Regions from separate parts of the Homo sapiens genome. Here region 1 is linked to region 2. Evidence: fine-mapped expression QTL. A gene starts in region 2. The other region holds a variant in brackets. All regions are shown on one strand. Distances are from middle to middle. Region 1 overlaps PCM1 (pericentriolar material 1). Region 2 holds the start of FGL1 (fibrinogen like 1).

The links.
Region 1: its variant is fine-mapped to the expression of FGL1 in prefrontal cortex (CommonMind, PIP 0.93).

Annotation. Positions count from the first base shown.
Region 1 is chr8:17,994,545-18,002,544 of GRCh38, reverse strand. The region is part of intron 29 of PCM1 (pericentriolar material 1); the gene reads right to left. Among named protein-coding and RNA genes, the nearest start is that of PCM1, 76 kb to the right of the region's middle. The variant C/T (reference allele first, on the strand shown) is at 3,809.
Region 2 is chr8:17,888,804-17,901,951 of GRCh38, reverse strand. It overlaps FGL1 (fibrinogen like 1), which reads left to right and starts at 6,428. Exons shown (of 8, transcript NM_004467.4): 1 at 6,428-6,505.

The DNA.
Region 1 (8,000 bases), 100 kb before region 2:
ATGCACACGTATGTTTATTGCGGCACTATTCACAATAGCAAAGACTTGGAACCAACCCAAATGTCCAACAATGATAGACTGGATTAAGAAAATGTGGCACATATACACCATGGAATACTATGCAGCCATAAAAAATGATGAGTTCATATCCTTTGTAGGGACATGGATGAAATTGGAAACCATCATTCTCAGTAAACTATCGCAAGAACAAAAAACCAAACACCGCATATTCTCACTCATAGGTGGGAATTGAACAATGAGATCACATGGACACAGGAAGGGGAATATCACACTCTGGGGACTGTGGTGGGGTCGGGGGAGGGGGGAGGGATAGCATTGGGAGATATACCTAATGCTAGATGACACATTAGTGGGTGCAGCGCACCAGCATGGCACATGTATACATATGTAACTAACCTGCACAATGTGCACATGTACCCTATAACTTAGAGTATAATAAAAAAAAGAAAAAAAAAAAAAGAAAAAAAAAATTTAACAGATCTCTCCACAAAAAAAAAAAAAAAAAAAAAAAAAAAAAAAAAAAAAAAAGAAAGGTTAGAAGCAGCGGCAAAAGGATAGTAAGGCCATTTAGGAACTGTTGCAATTGCCCAGAACAAGGCTACGTGTTTCTGTTTTTACATGGAATAATCTGGACACGATCAGCTGACTTTTTCCTCTCAGCTGTAAAGTCAGATACAGAGAAAGCAGTTTCTACAGGTGCTTTCTCAAAGATCTCTCTTCTCTCAAAACATTCCAAAAAAAAGCAATTACTTCTGCTGAGGGAAGAAATATGAGCACAATGGAAGCAATTCTCTGTGGTACATGTCTTACAAAGAAAAGTATGAGTACAATATAAGAAACTAGCCCAGTGACAATGTATTTTGTAGTTTACCATATCTAGATGAAAAGAAAACAATTACTTTTCACTTCTAATTGTTAAAACTTCCATTTTAAATTAGAATGTAATGAATGCCATCTCAGAAAGAAGTCCTGTCTTCCTATTCCATTTGTTGCACATGTCTCCATCTGCCCTGATCAATGTTGTTAAATGAAATTAATAGTACTGCTTACCAGTCTGATACTATCAATGTTGATGGGAATATAAACTGGTTAGTTTCTCTGAAGGACAATCAGCTTGTCTAAAAAGCTTTAAAAATGTTTATGACCTTTGAACTAAAAATTTTATGTCTAAAAATTGTTTCTAGAGAAACAAAAGTAAACAGATTACCTTCAATCATTCAATAAGTGTTTGTAATAGTGGAAAAGAAACCAGAATAAACACAAATATTTAACAACAGGGACTGAAAAAATAATTAATAGAAAATTGTATTTTATGACTACTTGACCTCATAGCAGCCATCAACATAACTAACTCCTTGCAGTCCTTCTTGGTCAACCCTGGCTCCGCTTTTGTACAACTTACAAATGCTGAATCACCTGGTCCCACATCACAGTTGCAAGGCCCCTTTCTATTCTCAAATCAAATGCCCTGGCTTTAGGCAGCAGCTATATGCTATAATCTACCTTATGTCTATCTCCAGCTGTGCCTGGAATTAGCTGAGTAACCAAATGACTACTTGACCTCTCTACGATTGTCTAAAAGACAGTTCAATTTTAAAGTACAAAATAAAACTCTTGGCTGGCACAGTGGCTCGAGCCTATAATCCCAGCACTTTGGGAGGCCCAGGCGGGTGCATCACTTGAGGTCAGCGTGGTCAACATAGGGAAACACCATCTCTACTAAAAATACAAAAAGCAAGCCAGGCATGGTGACAGGCACCTGTAGTCCCAGATACTTGGGAGGCTGAGGTGGGAGAATCGCTTGAACCCAGAAGGCAAGGGTTGCAGTGAGCCGAGATCGCGCCACTGCATTCCCGCCTGGGTGATAAGAGTGAGCCTCTGTCTCAAACCCCACCCCCCTCAAAAAAAACAGAGCTCTTCATCTCCCCCTTCTCCCAAGCCTTCTTCATTTTGGTAAATCGTATTTCCTCCTAGCCAGTTTTCTCTCTCTCTCGACACTCTACCCATTAGTAGGACCTACTGATTTCCTAACTATATCCCAATTACGTATTTCTTTATCACCACCCTTATCTAAGCCACTATCATTTCTCTTCTGATCTCACTGCACTCCTGACCCCCTTATAATCAATTTTCTAAAAACAAGCCAGACTTTTTTTCTCTGCTTAAAATCTTCTAGGAGTTTCCCTTCAAACTTTGAGCAAAGTCCAAACTTCTAACCATGGCCTGTAATATTTTATACAATTAGCCCTTGCCTCCCTTTCAACTTAGTCTCATACAAATATCCTCCAACCATATAGACTTTCCCTCTAGTTCCTTCAACACGCGAAGCTAATTCTCACCTTAAGGCCAGTGCACTGTCTAGAACAATCCTGGTTTACACTGGCTCCTTAGTCACATCTCTACTTAAATGTTCCCTCATTAGAAGCTTTCCCTGATCATCCAATATAAAACAGACACCATCATATCACCAAATTTTAATTCTGAGCATGGCCTGTATCATTAACTGATAAACAGTTACTTATATGTCTTTTATTTACTTATGTTATTTCAGAGTGTATTCCCACTCTAGCATGCAAGCTCCATGAGAACAAAGGCCTTGTTCACTGCTAGGTCTGCCAAACCTGGCATTAAGTAGGCATTTTATAAATATTTTGGAATGAATGTTGTGGATCCATTAAAAAAAAAGGCAGGGGTGGAGCAAGATGGCAGAACAGAAGCCTCCACCAATCATCTTCCCCTTCTGGAACACCAAATTTTAACAACTACACACAAAAAAAGCACCATTATAAGAATAAAAACCAGGTGAGCAATCATGGTACCTGCTTTTAACTTTGTATTGCTGAAAGGGACACTGAGGGTAGGAAAGACCATCTTGAATTGCTGACGCCACCCCTCCCCCAACCCCAGGCAGCACTGACTGCAGCAATGCAAGTGACTCCTTCTGCTTGAGGAGACGAGAGCAAGGAGTAAAAAGGACTTTGTGTTGTATCTTGGATACCAGCTCAGCCACAGCTACAACAGGGCACCGGCAGAGTCGTGAGGTCGCCATTCCAGGCCCCAGCTCCAAGATGACATTTTTAGATACACTCTGGCCCAGAAGGAAACCCACTGCCTTAAAGGGAAAGACCCAGTCCTGGAAGGATTAATCTTGGCTTAATCTTAACCTGCTGACTAAAGAGCCCTTGAACCTTGAATAACTGACAGTGATACCCATGTAGTATGCCATGGGCCTTGGGTGAGACTCAGAGATGTTCTGGCTTCAGGTGAGATCCAACGTATACTGAGCTGTGATGGCTATGGTGAAAGATTCCTTCTGCTTGAGAAAAGTAGAGGAAAAAGGGGACTTTGTCTTGCACCTTAAGTACCAGAGCGATCACAGTGGGGTAGAGCACCAAGCAGGCTCCTGGGATCCGCAATTCGAGAACCTGGCTCCTGGACAGCATTTCTGGACCTGCCCTGGGCCAGAGGAGAGCCCACTGCCCTGAAGGGTGAGTCCCAGGCCTGGCAGCATTCACCACAAGCTGACTAAAAAGCCCTTGGGCTTTAAATGAATATTAGCAGAACTCATGGGCCGGTGGTCACAGTGGTAGCCACCAGGAGAGACTCCTTTGCTTATGGAAAGCAGAGGTAAAAGTGGGAAGGACTTTGTCTTGTGGTTTAAAGGCCAGCTTAGCCACAGTAGGACAGAATACCAGGTAGATTTCTAAGCTCAAGGACAGTATCTGTGGACCCATTAGGGACCTGGGGGAACTCACTGCCCTGAAGGGAAAGACACAAACCTGGCTGG[C/T]TTCCCCACCTGCTAATAGTAGGAACCCTAGGGCCTTGAGCGAATTTAGGCAAATTTAGGCGGTAGTCAGGTAGTGGTTACAGAGGGTCTTGGGCAAGCCCCAGTGCTGTGCTGTGCTGGCTTTAGGTATGACCCAGCACAGTCACAGTGGTAAGTCACCAAAGGGGTGCCTCCATCACCCCATCTCCATCCAGCTCCAGGCATTTCAACACAGAGATTCCATTTATTTGAAAGAAAGTAAAGGAAGAGAACAGAAGTCTCCACCTGGTAATTCAGAGAATTCTTCTGGATCTTATCCAAAATCACCAAAGTGGTATACCGCTATGAGTCTGCAAAAAGCACAGTGTTTTTGGGCTTGGGACCCAAGTCCCTTTGAATACCTGGAAAGCTTTCCCAAGAAGAATGGGCACAAACAAGCCCAGACTGTGAGGCCTACAAGATACAAGGCCTATATATAACTCTTCAATGCCCAGACACCAACAAACATCCACAAACATCAAGACCATACAGAAAATCACGACCTCAACAAAGGGACCAAAAATCATGACCTCAACAAAGGGACCAAATAAGGCACCAGTGGCCAATCCTGGAGAGAGATATGTGACCTTTCAGACAGAGAATTCAAAATAGCTGTCTTGAGGAAACTCAAACAAATTCAAGATAACACAGGAAGGGAATTCAGAATTTTTTTTTTTTTTTTTCAGACGGAGCCTTGCTCTGTCACCCAGGCTAGAGTGTGGTGGCACAATCTCGGCTCACTGCAACCTCCGCCTCCCGGGTTCAAGCGATTCTCCTGCCTCGGCCTCCCAAGTAGCTGTCATTATAGGTGCGCACCACCATGTCCAGCTACTTTTTTTTTTTTTTTGTATGTTGTAGTAGAGGCGGGGTTTCACCGTGTTGGCCAGGCTGGTCTCAAACTCCTGACCTCAAGTGATCACCCGCCCCAGCCTCCCAAAGTGCTGGGATCACAGGTGTGAGCCATAGCACCTGGCCGGGAATTCAGAATTCTATATTCATAGATAAATTTAATAAACAGATTGAGATAATTTAAAAGAATCAAGCAGAAATTCTAGAGTTGAAAAACGCAACTGACATACTAAAGAATGCATCAATCTCTCAATAGAATTGATCAAGCTAAAGAATTAGCTTGAAGACAGGCTCTTTGAAAACACACAACTTGAGGAGACAAAAGAAAAAAAAAGTAAAACACAATAAAGCACACCTACAGGATCTGCAAAATAACCTCAACAGGACAAATCTAAGTTATTGGCCTTAAAGAGGGGGTAGAGAGAGACAGAGGTAGTAAGCTTAACAACATTCAAGTACAAGAAGGTTACAGAAAACCAGGATAGTTTAATCCAAATAAGACTATCTCAAGGCATTTAATAATCAAACTGCCAAACATCAAGGATAAAGAAAGGACCCTAAAAGCAGCAAGAGAAAAGAAACAAATAACATATAATGGGGTTCCAATATATCTGGCAGTAGACTTGTCACTAGAATCCTTACAGGTCAGGAGAGAGTGTCATGACATGTTTCAAGTGCTGAAGGAAGAAAACTTTTACCCTAGAATAGTACATCCAGCAAAAATATCCTTCAAACACGAAGGAGAAATACTTTCCCAGACAAAAGCTGAGGGATTTCATCAACACCAGACCTGTCTGACAAGAAATACTAAATACTTTATTTCCATCTAAAAGAAGACATTAATGAGCAGTAAGATATCGTCTGAAGGTACAAAATTCACCAGTAATAGAAAGTACACAGAATATTATAACACTGTAATTGTGGTGTGTAAACTACTCTTAAGTGGAAAGACAAAATGATGAACCAACCAAAAATAGTAGCTACAACAACTTTTCAAGACATGGTACAGTAAGATATAAAGAGAAACAACAAAGAGTTAAAAAGCAGGGAAACAAAGTTAACATTTGCATAAGTTTTCATTTTGTTTGCTTGTTTGTTTATGCAATCAGTGTTATCGGTTTAAAATACTGAGTTATAAGACAGTATTTGCAATCCTCATGGTAACCTGAAATCCAAAAACATACATATAACAGATACGAAAACAATGGATGTTAAAAAACAAGAAAAGCATGAGCAAACCAAACCCAAAATAGAAGAAATAATAAAGATCAAAGCAGAAATAAATGAAATTGAAATAAAATACAAAAGAGCAACGAAACAAAAAGTTGGTATTTTAAAAGATACATAAAATTGGCAAACCATTAACCAGACTAAGAAAAAAAGACAAAAAACCCAAATAATATCAGAGATGAAAAAGGAGACATTACAACCGATACCTCGGAATTCAACAACACATTAAAAAGATGATCCATCGTGACCAAGTGGGATTTATCCCAGGGATGCAAGGATGGTTCAACATAGGTAAATCAATCAATGTAATACATCATATCAACAGAATGAAGGACAAAACCCATATGATCATTTTAACTGATGCTGAAAAACCATTTGATAAAATTCAACATCCTTTCATGATAAAAGCCCTCAAAAAACTGGGTATAGAAGAAACATACCTCAACATACTAGAAGCCATATACAACAGACCCACAGCTAGTATCATACTAAATGGGGAAACACTGAAAGCCATTCCTTTGTGATCTGGAACACAACAAGGATGTCCACTTTCACCACTGTTATTCAACATAGTACTGGAAGTCCTAGCTAGAGTAATCAGACAAGAGAAAGAAATAGAGGGGATCCAAACTGGAAAGGAAGAATCAAATTATCCTTGTTTGTATATGATATATATATAATCTTATACTTGGAAAAGCCTAAAGACTCCACAAGAATACTATTAGAACTGATCAACAAATTCAGTAAAGTTGCAGGATACAAAGTCAACACACAAAAATCAGTAGCATTTCTATATGCCACCAGTAATCTCATTTACAACAGACACAAATAAAATTAAATACCTAAGAATTAACCAAATAAGTGAAAGATCTCTACAATGAAAACTATAAAACACTGATGAAAGAAATTTAAAAAGACACAAAAAGGGAAAGATATTCCATGTTCATGGATTGGAAAAATCAATATTGTTAAAATGTCTGTACTCCCCGAAGCAATCTACAGATTCAATACAATTGTGATCAAAATACCAATGACATTCTTCACAGAGAAAAAAGAATCCTAAAATTTATAGGAACCACAAAAAAAGCTCAGAACAGCCAAAGCTATCTTGAGCAAAAAGAACAAAACTGGAAGAATCACATTAACCTGCCTTCAAATTATACCACAGAGCTATAGTAACCAAAACAGCGTGGTACTGGCATACAAACAACAGAAACACAGACCGACAGAACAGAACAGAGAACCCAGAAACACAGACCGATAGAACAGAACAGAGAACCCAGAAACAAATCCACATACCTACAATAAACTCATTTTCAACAAAGGTGCCAAGAACATACAGTGGGGAAAAGACAGTCTCTTCACAATAAATGGTGCTGGGGTAACTGGATATCCATATGCAGAGGAATGAAACTAGACCTCTATCTCTCACCATATACAAAAGTCAAATCAAAATGGATTAAAGACATAAATCTAAGACCTCATACTATGAAACTATTATATGAAAACAGTGGGGAAACTCTGCAGGACATTGGTCTGGGCAAAAATTTCTTGAGTGATACCCCACAAGCACTGGCAACCAAAGCAAAAGCAGACAAATGGGATCACATCAAGTTAAAAAGCTTCTGCACAAGAAAAGAAACAAACAACAAAGTGAAGAGACAACCCACAGAATGAGAGAAAATATGTGCAAACCATCCGACAAGGGATTAATAACCAGCATATATAAAGAGTTCAAACTCTATAGGAAAAAATCTAATAATCTAATTTTAAAATGTGCAGAAGATCTGAAGACACACTTCTCAAAAGACGACATACAAATGGCAAACAGGCACATAAAAGGTGCTCAACATGATCACGGAAATGACAATCAAAACTACAACGAGAAATCATCTCACCTCTGTTAAAATGGCACTTATCCCAAAGACAGGCAATAATAAATGCTGGCGAGGATGTGGAGAAAAGGGAACTTTCATACACTGCTGGTGGGAATGTAAATTAGTACAACCCCTCTGGAGAACAGTTTGGAAGTTGCTCAAAAAACTGAAAATACAGCAAGAGCTACCATATGATCCAGCAATCCCACTGCTGGGTA
Region 2 (13,148 bases):
CTATCAGGCATTGTCATAAGCACTTCATGTAAGTTATCAAGTTTAATCGTTACCAATTTTGAATATTTACATTATATGCTAATACAAATAGGTGATATTACTATTCCATGCATAATAAATATTTCTGAGCTTCTATTGTGTGGTGTGCATATGCTGGGTGCTGTGGATATTGAAATAAGAAAAAACAAGCCCCTGATCTCCCTGGAATGAAAAGAGAAGCTCCAGTACACAATATAGTGATGTGTGATATAAGAGAAGTAAATACATAGGAGAACATCTAGCCTTGGTGGATGGGCTAGGAGAAGGGCTGGTGGCTAATTAAGACTTATTTCATTCAGAGAGGGTACATAGAAATTAGAATAGGCAAATAAAAAGGTAACAACTATATACATCACAGCAATAGAAAAGGGTACATGTATTATGGTTAATTCATTGGTGAAAGAGTCATTGGAGATGCAGTCTTAGGCTTGCCGAGCATCTTTATTGAGCCAGGCAATCTTCCATTAAACTGGACAGATCCCCACCTTTCATTTCTCTTGAAATTTCCTAATTTTGTAGTAGGAGAATGGCACATACTATGGAGCTTTTCTTGCTCACAACAGATCACCCAGCAGCCACATTTGACAAAAATTTTGGGGCCAGGGAGTAAAGGTGTGGCCTCAGTGTGTGGGTGCCATATATCTAGGTGTACACTGAAATACACAGATGGCTGGGTGTGGTAGCTCACGCCTGTAATCCCAGCACTTTGGTAGGCCGAGGTGGGCGGATCATGAGGTCAAGAGATCGAGACCTCCTGGCCAACATGGTAAAACCCCATCTCTACTAAAAATACAAAAATTAGCTGGGCATGGTGGTGCATGCCCAAGTCCCAGCTACGTGGGATGCTGACGCAGGAGAATTGCTGGAACCCGGGAGGTGGAGGTTGCAGTGAGCTGAGATTGCACCACTATCCTCCAGCCAGGCAACAGAGTGAGACTCTGTCTCAAAAAAAAAAAAAAGAAAGAAAGAAAGAAGAAAGAAAGAAAGAAAAAGAAAGAAAGAAAGGAAAGGAAAGGAAGGAAGGAAGGAAGGAAGAAAGAAAGAAAAAGAAAAAAACAGAAAGAAATACCGATGACTGGGCTAATTGGATTCTCCCTCTTAGGGATGTGAGATTTGTATGGACAGACACAGAGGCCAGAATTCCACTGAAATTAAAACATTTTAAGGGCTGCATACTACAGAATAAATCCAAGAACACATCTTTGAGAGATTTTTGGAGCTTTCCTTATTCTGCCTTCCCTTGGCTTGTATCAGTCTGTCACTGATTGTACTACTTACCTCAGTCCGTAACCCTCCAACAAATCCAATTATTTTTGTTCTAGATGGCTGAAGTTCATTTCTTCAGATTATAAACAACAACAACAAATAAAACTAGTATAAGTGTATGACTCTCAAATAGGGCCTCAATATTTCAGAATCTTTGATCGCTGGAGTCAAGCACACAATGTCTATTCTAAAAGTTCTAGAATTTTTCCACAATGTGTCTCTGAGGGGGAAGCAGGAAAAAAACATTTCAGTCTCAGAGGAATCATTTTGTAGTATACTCTTGGTCATGCCTATAGGAGTCAGGGACCTAGCCTTTGTTTTTGAGGGAGTTCTAGTTATTGGCAAAGTTATCCAAGTGCAAATATAAATTTTTAAATGTAAATTTTAAAGGTTTCATATGCCCGGTTATTGTCCCAAATGCACATGCAGAAAAATAAGTTGTGCCTGATGAACTAAATGTGGGCTAACCAACAGATTAATCAGAAAGTATGTGTAATTGTAGACAATGAATTTTTTTGTCTCTCAACCTAATGTACAGTTATTTTGAAGTGAAAGGAAACTATATCTCAGGGAATTATATTTAGATTGTCTTCCTTTTTCTAAGAAATAAAAACTGAGTAAAAAAAAGACAAAATTTAAATTCAAATGGGCAAATATATTTTTGTCAAATGTATATTTTTACATTTTCTGCTAGAGTTCAGAAATTTTGTCAGAATAGCTTGCAACCCTGAGGATTCTACTTTCAGATATTGTCATAGTGGTAGGAATCACGCATTTTCCAATTAGTTGAATTCTTCATGAAAAGATAATATTTTAAAAGTCTAAAAACTGGAGAAAAGAGGTACATATAGAGACTGGATTTAGGCATCAGGATGAAAAGATACACTGCAAATTCATCCAAAAAAAAAAAAAAAAAAGCAGATACATCATCACCGAGGAGTAGAATGAAAGCAAGTATCTTCTGATACCTTCCATCTTCCGTGTTCCTAAAGGCGTATTTTAAAATGTGGTTTTACTTAACACGAGCTCTTGTGTTCTTTTTTCCCTACATATTTTTATACAATATAGCTAAATTTCTTCTTCATGTGTTACGGGTAAAAAATCTGTTTTCTATTAGAATTTACGTGTATTTGGTTAAAATTGTTTTTTTAATGACATGTGACCTTCTGGGGAGATTCTTCTTTAATAAGAAAGATGTTATTATTCAGAAGCATAAAATAAATGCCAGTCCACAGTCCTTGCAAACACACAGAAAGAAAAACAAACATATTCCTCAGCAAGAACACTTTTTATTTTTTGTGGCAGAAAAAAAAAAAGAAAACATCTTTGTACTCTTCCTGCTAGGGAACCAATCTAAAATTAGTTTGAGAATCAGAGGGGAAAAAAATCCAAACACATAGGTGAGAAAGCTCTGAAAAGATGAGTAGTGAATAAGCGTTTCATTTTATCTTAACTAGTATGCAGGGGAGGACATAGGTTGTGTGGAACCTGAAGCTACACATTTGGGAGTATCTGCCAAATGTCTATCAGTATTACTTTTTACATGCCTCATGTAGCAGGCCTAGAGGGAGAGCAATCCAGATGTGAGCAAAAGAACAGAGAGCTCTGGGAGGAAGAAATAATGGTGCAGTGACAAAATTCCTTCTGAGGCATTCGACTTTCCTGTCCAGGAGCCTCAGAGTTACAGGCAGAGTTCAATCATAGAAGCAGAGCTTCTAGGATATATAAGGGATTTGACTTAATGCAACTGTGGGAGCTGGTTAAGTACTCTTTGAAAGGCAGCTGTCTCCAGGGATGATGTTGGAGCTTGAAGTACGAACTGCAGTTAAGCGAGAGAGTAGATGAGCGTAATAGAAGCAGGAGCTGGAATCTATGAGGACGGACTGAAACCTGTGTCAGTTCTTGTTGCCTCTGACCTTGGTTGATGTGGGTGTCCTACAGAAGCCAGACCCATTTGTAATGTGCTAAACGAGGCTCCAAATTATATCCAAAGGGAAGTGAAACAGCTGGAGGCTTAGCCACTATCTTAAGGCCAACGAGATACGTTACAGCATGGGAGAGCTGCAAAGATGGCTGCCACTTCCTTTCTGCCTGCCAACTGCTCCTAATGGAAAACATAAGGCAAAAGGAATTCTGGGAACTGTAGTTCGGCCTACCCAAGTTGACACATTACAAAGCACCTCAATTTTTCTTTTCTTCCTCTTTTTCTTTATCCACCTTTACCCTTATTTTTCTAGTTCATATTGTCAGAATCTTTCCCAGAAAGTGTGTGTGAAGGTGGAACTATTTATTGATCATCTATTAATGTAAACTTTCTGCTAGTTACATCAATAATGGGAATACTTAGGATAACTCACTAGTAAAACTGTTTTAGTTTTATTAATTTTAAAATGCTTCTCCATTGAAATTTCTGAGACCTACGTTATGTGCAAATAAACTTTCTAGTTTTTCAGGACTCTGCCTGAGATGACATTGAAACCAGCATTTCAGGAAGGAATTTGATTACCTCCACCTGAGGAAGCTCTGCTAGTTGTGTGGAACGAAGACTGTTCTTAACAACCCCTTTCCTTGATATCTACAATACGCTCCGTTCTAAATATTTTAATAAAGGGCACATTTGAAGTTTAAAATGTTATCATTGTAATCAGAGCATGGAGTTTTATAAGTCCCATAAAAGGGTGCCTCCTGAACTGGGAGTCAAGTTTGGAAAATATAACCATCAGAAATTTATGCTGGTAGAATACAGTCAAGGATATAAGATCATTTGTCTGAGTCTAGTTCCTCATGCAGCCTTAAGTAGACATGTTCCTCGCTGCAAGCTTGAGTGGACTGGAGGCGGCAAGATCTGGAATTAAACCTTCCCACGGTGACTGGGTCAAGTATCAAATAATGGACAGGTGTTCAATCTGGCAGGCACAATACAGGGTCCAGAGGGTTTGGATGAAAATTGTGCTGTAACTGATGTATTAATTGAAGAGTTCTCTGAAAAAGGTCTTCCAAAAGGAAAAGGAAAAAAGAATTGACAGTGTCCGTTTAATGTGTTTGAGAGCCTAATCAGCCTGATCTTGGTGGGACTGTACTTGTTGTCCTATTATATCATGCTTTTCTTGTACTTTTTTCAGCCAGTGATCTCAGGTCTCATTCTCATTTCATAGCTTTGGTGCAGTTGTGCAAGGTCACAACTCTTCTTTCTTGCTTTTTTTCTTTTTCTTTTTTTTTGACAGGGTCTTGCTCTGTCACCCAGGCTGCAGTGCAGTGGCGCGATCTCGGCTCACTGCAATCTCTGCCTCCTGGGTTCAAGTAATTCTCCTCCTCAGCCTCCTGTGTAGCTGGTACCACAGACGCCCACCACCACACCTGGATAATTTTTGTAGTTTTAGTAGAAACTAAAAATACATGGGGTTTTGCCATTTTGGCCAGGCTGGTCTCGAACTCCTGACCTCAGGTGATCCACCTGCCTCAGCCTCCCAAAGCGTTGGGATTACAGGCGTGAGCCACCGCACCTGGCCATAATTTTGACCTTTCCTGATGATAGTTCTTCCACCATGTTATGGCAGTACATCCATGGAATAATGTTACTCCAAGAAAATTTGGCTTTTGGAATTCCTCCACAAAGTATTGGCCCTAGAGTAGTCCTTACTGCCTGATTAACTTTTGCAAGTTTCTCCTGAGGTAATGATGCTAGCCAAGTTTCCGAAAGACAGCATAGTCTACCTTTAGTAGAAAAGAGGACAGATTCTGAGCAGGATTGCCTTTGAGCCCAGCTATACCTCTTGTTAGCTGTGTGACCTCGTGCAAGTCACTTAAACCTCTGTGTCTCAGTTTCGTCATTTGTGAAATGGAGATCATTAACAGTACCTACTTATAGGGCTGTGTGGCTGAGTGAGTTGATAAAATTACCATGTTTAGCACATGATAAGTATACCACATGTTAGCTGCTGTTAATGTTATGTCCCTCCAGTGAGGAAATGAACACAAGGCTAAATTATTGCTTGAATGGGGACAAAGCTAAAGGCATACAAGAAGGAAAGATAAGTTTGTATTTCAAAATATGTCATTTTACCACAGAGATCATTATTGAATTAGCCGAATAATCCCATATTTTTGCTTTTGAAATTTAACATTAGCAGCTTGAATTCTCTACAATTATGAATGTATAATTTCCACTTCTTCTGTGTGTGTGCAAATCACTTCAGTCTAACTGGCTTTTTTTTTCCTTCTTTTTTCCAGTAAATCAACAGGATTACCTTTCCCTTAATAATCTTCAAAATGTCCACGTGAAGGACAGGAAGATGTTTAATGGGAAGACCAAACATCGTCAGTGCTCAAGTCCAGTAGATAACAAAGAACAGAAAGAAAACAAAACTTTGGTATTTTACTGGAATCTGAGTGAATAAATAGGGACCACAGGACAAATGGCAAACAACTGCTTGAGTTACATCAGAAGGAAAGAAGAAATGATGAACCCAGATTTCCAGTAAGAAACTGTTACACAATACGATTAATGGAGCTAACAAGTGCCTATTACACATTAGAAAATCTTCTAGAGGATTTTAAAACAAAAGGAACAACTTGTCCAGAGTATAATCGATGCTTCCAGTTAAATTTCACAATTTTGCACCTCAGGGAATACTTTTGTTTTTCTTAGAGAGCAAATAAACTGACCATTTCACCTTGGCAATTATTAACCTGCCTTGTTTTTTATAACTAGGAAAAATTTGGCTTATCTCCATATTTTAGTTGAGATGACATATTAATTCATATTTTTGTGGGTAAAATGTTATTACCCTTAATACAAAGCAAAGTTTCAGCTGGACTTCGTTTTTACTTAATCTTCAATGGAACATTATTGAAGTTACAGTACAAAAATTCTCTGAATGAACATAATAATAAGTTGTAAAATATATATATCTTTATAAAGATATATTATTGGATCTTTCACAAAAAGTCATACAAGTGGGGAAAAAAGAAAAATATCAGAGTATTGGGATTTGTCCTTGAATCTTCTCTTTTAGCTTTCTTTCAGTTAAACCTGTGTCCACATGTTTGTTTCTGGATTGAAGCCAGAATCAACATTGTCCCTATTTCTAATCAAATAATGGAGAAATAATTACAAATTCCCAATGCAGTTACAGGATCCTGGGAAGCAGAGTGTCTGGATGGAACCTGAGCTGGGTCTCTGACTCACTTCTGACTTTAGGCAAGTTATTTAATGTCTCTGCATTTTTGACATGCTTGTAATAATGCTAATTTATTTCACAGGTATGATAGTAACCAAAACTCAGGTAACAACCATTAGCTTTTGCAAGAAGTCAGGTTGACTAGCAAGGAGTCTGCTTCTGCTACTTGGAGAAGAGATTTAGAATTATGTATCTTTTGTTACAGATATACAGATATACAAATATACAGATATACAAATAAGGTATGTTAGAATTACAAATGAGGAAAATGGAAAATTTTAGAGAACTTAAGATATTCTCAGGAATTATTCTAAAGCTAATCAAAGTAATATAATGACTTTCTAAATATGTATAATTACATTTTGAAATGCTTTATTGTTTATATGCTACCAGACTAGGGGGTGCCTTTTTGATTATTGGATTATCTTAATGGTAATGAGATGAACATTTCAGGACATCAAGAGACAGAGGCCTGTCAAAAAAATTTCATTAGCCCTTTATTTTTTACTAAATCTAATGCTAAGCAATATTTATATACCTTATATAATGTATATATAATCTATAATATATACATAATTATGTATAATAATGTTACGTACATACATATACATATATATACAGTGTGCGCAGGTAAAATTATATGATATATAGGTGCATCACCCAGAGCATTTTCAAAACATACTTCCATTTATGCAAGAGCCAGAATCAAACATTGGAATAAGAAAATTTCTTTTTTAAGCTCTAGGCGTTTTTTGTTGTTGTCGTTTGTTTGTTGGTTTTTTGAGATGGAGTCTCACTTTGTATAATTTCCTTTACATTTTGAATGAATTGCATGGGAGTTTGACGTAAATGATAGGTTTACAGTTTCAGTATAAAAAATTAAAAATAAAATGGACTATATGACAATTTTCACTTCAGAAGTCAAAAAACTTCAGAAACATTTTTCTTTATTGCATTTCTTGAGGGATCAACTATATTTAGCTTTGTAAGGCTTTCAGTGAGTATGGATTCTTAAGAAAAATACAAAAGCACAGTTATATTCCATTTTCAGAAAGAGGAAAAAATTTGGAAGGAAATAGCTTAAAAGGAGTCTCTAAGCTTGTGTTTATGGGTACATTTTTAACTCACTGACTTAGGTTATAGTCCTAAGCATTATAGTCCTATAGCGTTTGTGAATGCTAACTTATTAAACATACTTCGTTCAATAACTTTTTCCTTCCTTTTTATTTCTTTTATATATCCTTTTACAATGCTTGCTTAAAACATACCAGTTTTGAAATGTTTGCATGCTACTAATGTACTTCTGTTTTGTAATTGTTTTTAAAAATTATATATTATTTTTAGAACTTTTCATTTACAAATTTAATGTCTTCATCTTTAAATTTAATGCAGCGTAATTAATTAAATTTTTTTTAAATATAGTGGGGAAGGAATTAGAATTTATAGCATTAAAATTATGTAAAATAATATAGTCCACCAAAGAACAGCCATTTGATAACAATTTTAATTTTATAATAATTAAAAGTTTTGATACTGCCTAAGGCAAAAATATTATAAAAGAAATACAACTAATTGTGCAATAAATGAACAGAATAATTTGATACAACTTTACTGTAAGCCAGATGTGCAGAAGAAATAATGGTTTACTATAATGAATGATGGAGACCAGAATTTCAAAGCAAGTTTCTTAATGCTTAGCATTTCTTCAATATTACAGAGAATGTTGGTTAGAATTGCAAAGGAGGAAAATGGAAAATTTTAGAGAACTTAAGATATTCTCAGGAATTATTCTAAAGCTAATCAAAGTAATATAATGACTTTCTAAATGTAAATAATTACATTTTGAAATGCTTTATTGTTTATATGCTACCAGACTAGGGGGTGCCTTTTTGATTATTGGATTATCTTAATGGTAGTGAGATAAACATTTCAGGACATCAAGAGACAGAGGCCTGTCAAAAAAATTTCATTAGCCCTTTATTTTTTACTAAATCTAATGCTAAGCAATATTTATATACCTTATATAATGTATATATAATATAATCTATAATATATACATATTATGTATAATAATGTTATGTTCATACATATACGTATATATACAGTGTGCGTAGGTAAAATTATATGATATATAGGTGCATCATTCAGAGCATTTTCAAAACATACTTCCATTTATGCAAGAGCCAGAATCAAACATTGGAATGAGAAAATTTCTTTTTTAAGCTCTAGGTGTTTTTTGTTGTTGTTGTTTGTTTGTTTGTTTTTTGAGATGGAGTCTCACTCTGTCACCCAGGCTGGAGTGCAGTGGTGTGATCTTGGCTCACTGCAACCTCTGTCTCCCAGGTTCAAGCAATTCTCATGCCTCAACCAACACAGTAGCTGGGATAAAAGGTGTGTGCCACCACACCTGGCTAATTTCTTTGTATTTTTAGTAGGGACGGGGTTTTGCCATGTTGGCCATGCTGGTCTCAAACTCCTGACCCAAGTGATCTGCCTGCCTCAGCCTCTCAACGTGCTGGGATTACAGGCATGAGCCACCACGCCTGGCTAAGCTCTAACTTTTTAAGCTAATTTATTCACTTCTGAAATAAAGTACTTGATCCCACAAATGCATAAGAAAACTTTAATCAAATAAAAAAATTTTTCAACAAATAACATTAAAGCAAAGTCTAGAAGATACAGACATTTCATGATTTTTAATTTTTGACTCCTGAATATTATCTGGGAGCGGATTAAAATAATGAAAATTTGTTTCCTGTCACATAAAAAAAGAGGACATTATTTTTACTACTAATCCTTAGCAGTTTCATTTATCAAGGAAAAATCCTAATCAGTAATCTATTAAATACATTGGTTATTTTCAGTCAGAAGAACAATTTGAGTTGGAGTCACAAATAAATGGTATTTATGTCATGTCGTTATGCTGATTTCCCAGACTAGTGTAAATATACTTAGTGAAAGTCTCTTTTATTTCTTTAGGCAAACAATTTTCCCTCTCTGAGCCTCTAGTGTTGATGATATTTGACTGAATGATGTCACTTCCTCTAATTATATTTTCTCTGCATGTTCTAGTCTCGGGGAACAAGGCTATTTCTAAAATCTCTTTATATTTTTTAAATATTTTGTTTTCCATCTTTATTTTCTTTTGCTTCCTTATAATAAAATGTTTTTGTTTCTTATTTTCTGTAACATGAAAAATACTTTATGACTGTATGTCTGTGACTATGCAATTGTTTATGTTTAAGAAATTGCCATTTGCATAAGGGCATTTATTTTTTTCCTTTATGCTACTTGAGTTTTGTGATAAATTTTAAAATTAGATAGTTAAAGACACAAGGGTACAAATTTAAAAAGCAACATAGCTATTATAATTTTGCTCAAAAAACATATTTATTGCCAACTGAAAACACGAGTCAAACTAAAAACTTATTATGAGATAGCTATGGTAATGACCTTGGCCCAGTGAGAGAGCCAACTTTCAAATATCTTAGGTATTATGTTTTCAGGTATATATTTTCTTTTGGGATTTTATAAATCCAAATGTCTCTTTTAAAACCAAAATAAGCTGTTACATATTGACATGACATATTTGCAAATCACAAAAAAGTTTATGAAAAGCATAATTCATTAAGAGTAGTTATTTTTGTTGTTGCTGGAAGGGTGAAGATGGAGGGAATCTGATAAAGACATCTTATAAATTCAACAGACACAAAAGAATTTGATCTCCCATAAGCAACTGTGAAATTACAATAACAGATCCTGGGAAGTTCTACAATTCTAATTCAGGTTTACAAGTTTTCTTCTCATCTATTCAGTAGATATTTTGTCGAGTACCTGTGCTAGGTTCAGCTGTGCCCCCAAAACATGTACATTCCTAACTTTTATTACCTGTGAATGTGATCTCATTTGCAAATAGGGTCTTTGTACATGTAACTGAGTTAAGATGAGGTCATACTGGATTAGGGCAGACCCTAATCCAATGACCGATGTCCTTATATGAAGAGGGAAATTAGACACAGAGACACACAGAGGAAAGACAGCTATGTGAAGATGGTATCAGAGAATAGAGTGATACTGCCACAAGTCAAAGGATGTCAAGAATTGCTGGCAACCACCAAATGCTAGAAGAGTCCAGAAAGGATTTTCTCTTAGAGCCTTTGAAGGAAGTATGGCCCTGTTCTTCTTGATTTTGGACTTGTATCCTCCAGAACTGTGAGATAATAAACTCCTGTTGTTTTAGGCCACTCAGTTTATGGTAATTTGTTATGGTGGCCTCAAGAAACTAGTACAGTACCTAACTATCCACCTAGCATTAGGGCAGTATACATAATAGATGTAGCCACTCACCTCTTCGTGCTTACATTGTACAGGGCGGTTGGAGTAGGTAGACAATAAACACATATATTATAATATTTCATTATATTTGGTGATAAGTGCTAAGGAGAAACTGAATCCATTGTGATAGAGATATGAAGTGTGTGGGTGATGTTGTTTGCGTGTGTCTCCACCCAAATCTCATCTTGAATTGTAGTTCTCGTAATCCCACATGTTATGGGATGGACCCAGTGGAAGGTAATTGAATCATGGGGGCAGCTACCCCCATGCTGCTGTTTTCGTGATAGTGAGTTCTCCTGAGATCTGATGGTTTTATAAGGGGCTTTTGCTTGGCTCTTCCCCTTCCTGCCATCATGTGAAGAAGGACATGTTTGCTTCCCCTTCCACCACGACTGTAAGTTTCCTGGGGCCTCCCCAGTCATGGCAAACTGTGAGTCAATTAAACCTTTTTCCTTTATAAATTACCCAGTCTCAGGCAGATCTTTACTGGGTAAATTTATAAAATGAGAATGGACTAAGACAGTAGGGGACAGCTGTTATTTTATATGTGGTAGTCAGGGAAGGTATCTCTGGGAAGGGAATACCTGAGCAAAGACCTGAAGGATGTCATGGAGCAAACCACAGAGATTTTCAGAAGAGCATTCCAGGTAGAGAGAACAGCAAGTGCAATCGCCCTGAGAAGTCTGTGTATTTCAGGGTTTTCCAAAAATGCCAAAGAGGCCAATGTAGCCAGAACAGGCAAAAATGATGGGAAAAGAGATGTGTTGAGGAGGTGGATGCTCACAGATTATGTAAAGCTTTGTCGGTGAATGACCAAATATCCCGGTTTGCCCAGGAAAGGCTCAGTATAGAATGTTGTCTCATTGTAATTCTAAAAAATTGTTTGGAATCTTCCATTGGTAGCTTGGGCCAGACATTAGCAATAGAGGTGGTGAGAAATGATTGGATGTTGTATAAATTTTGAACGTAGAGTCTTTCCTTAGGAAAGTTACTTTGCTTCACTATTTGAGCTTCCTTTAGTAAAAAGTAAACATAATGTGTCTTCTAAAGACATCGTGAGATTTCATGTGTTGATGATGTATTAGCAATTTTGTAAACATATTTTAAATGGCACACATTAATGTATTAACATGGGAGGCAGCATTGATATAAAAACAGGTTCTTGCCAATTTGTTCTCTCTCTGATCAAGTAAGCTGCAAACAGTATATTTTGAACCTATTTTTTTGGTATTCATTGTAGTATAAATGGTTATAATGATTTTCAAGTGTGTTCTTCCTATCTAAACAATATGCATTAATTTGAAACAATGAAATTGCCATTTTTCTAAGTCAGAAATGTTCAAACATCTGCCATTTCTTATAGTTCAACATAATACAGTAAGAAAGGATTAACCAGGCAATAAAGAAAGAGGTTCAGGAGATTTGGGAGATATTCCCAGGGGATATCCCCAGAGGCTGAATGGTCCTGGAGAAATCATAAGCATCCTTGTGCTTGTTTTCTTATTTTCACTGTGAGGCTAATGAAATAAAATAAAATGGCCAATTAAAATTTGATAGTGTTTTGATAGTGTTGTTGTTGTTTGAGGTGGAGTGTCGCTCTGTCACCCAGGCTTAACTACAGTGAGACAATCTCAGCTCACTGCAACCTCCGCCTCCCAGGTTCAAGTGATTCTCATGCTTCAGCCTCCCGAGTAGCTGGGATTACAGGTGTGCACCACCACACCTGGCTAATTTTTGTATTTTTAGTAGCGATGGAGTTTTATCATGTTGGCCAGGCTGGTCTTGAACTCCTGGCCTCTGGCGATCCTCCCACTTCGTCCTCCCAAAGTGCTGAGATTACAGGCGTAAGCCACCACGCCCAGCCAAAGTTCGGCAGAGTGTTTAGTGATGCCCAAACACAAACACAATATGGTTTCAGATGAGTATTCCTTATTTTTCCAATCCACGTTAGACTTGGGGAAATAGCCCTTGTCCCCTTGATGATGGGCCCTTTAATGTAAGTAATATTGCAGCCTTGCAGAGGTACATTCTACTTGAATGGCTAGCTCATTTTTATATAATGCCCCAGGCCACGCAGGCTGCTTGGCATCTTTGTGGAACTACGCTTACTGTCCCATCAAGCCTGTTTAGCAATTATTGTGTGTCATTATTAAAATATTATTCTCTTATTGTGAAGAAAAGATACTAAAGCATGCTGTAGGTCAGTCATTTTCTAGTGACAGGGATTAGAGGACTAGAATCCATTCAATTTTTAAAACTTTACCTACGAATAGTTAGAAAATATATGCTTGAAATAATCTCATTCTAGTTTATTGTTATTGTTTATTT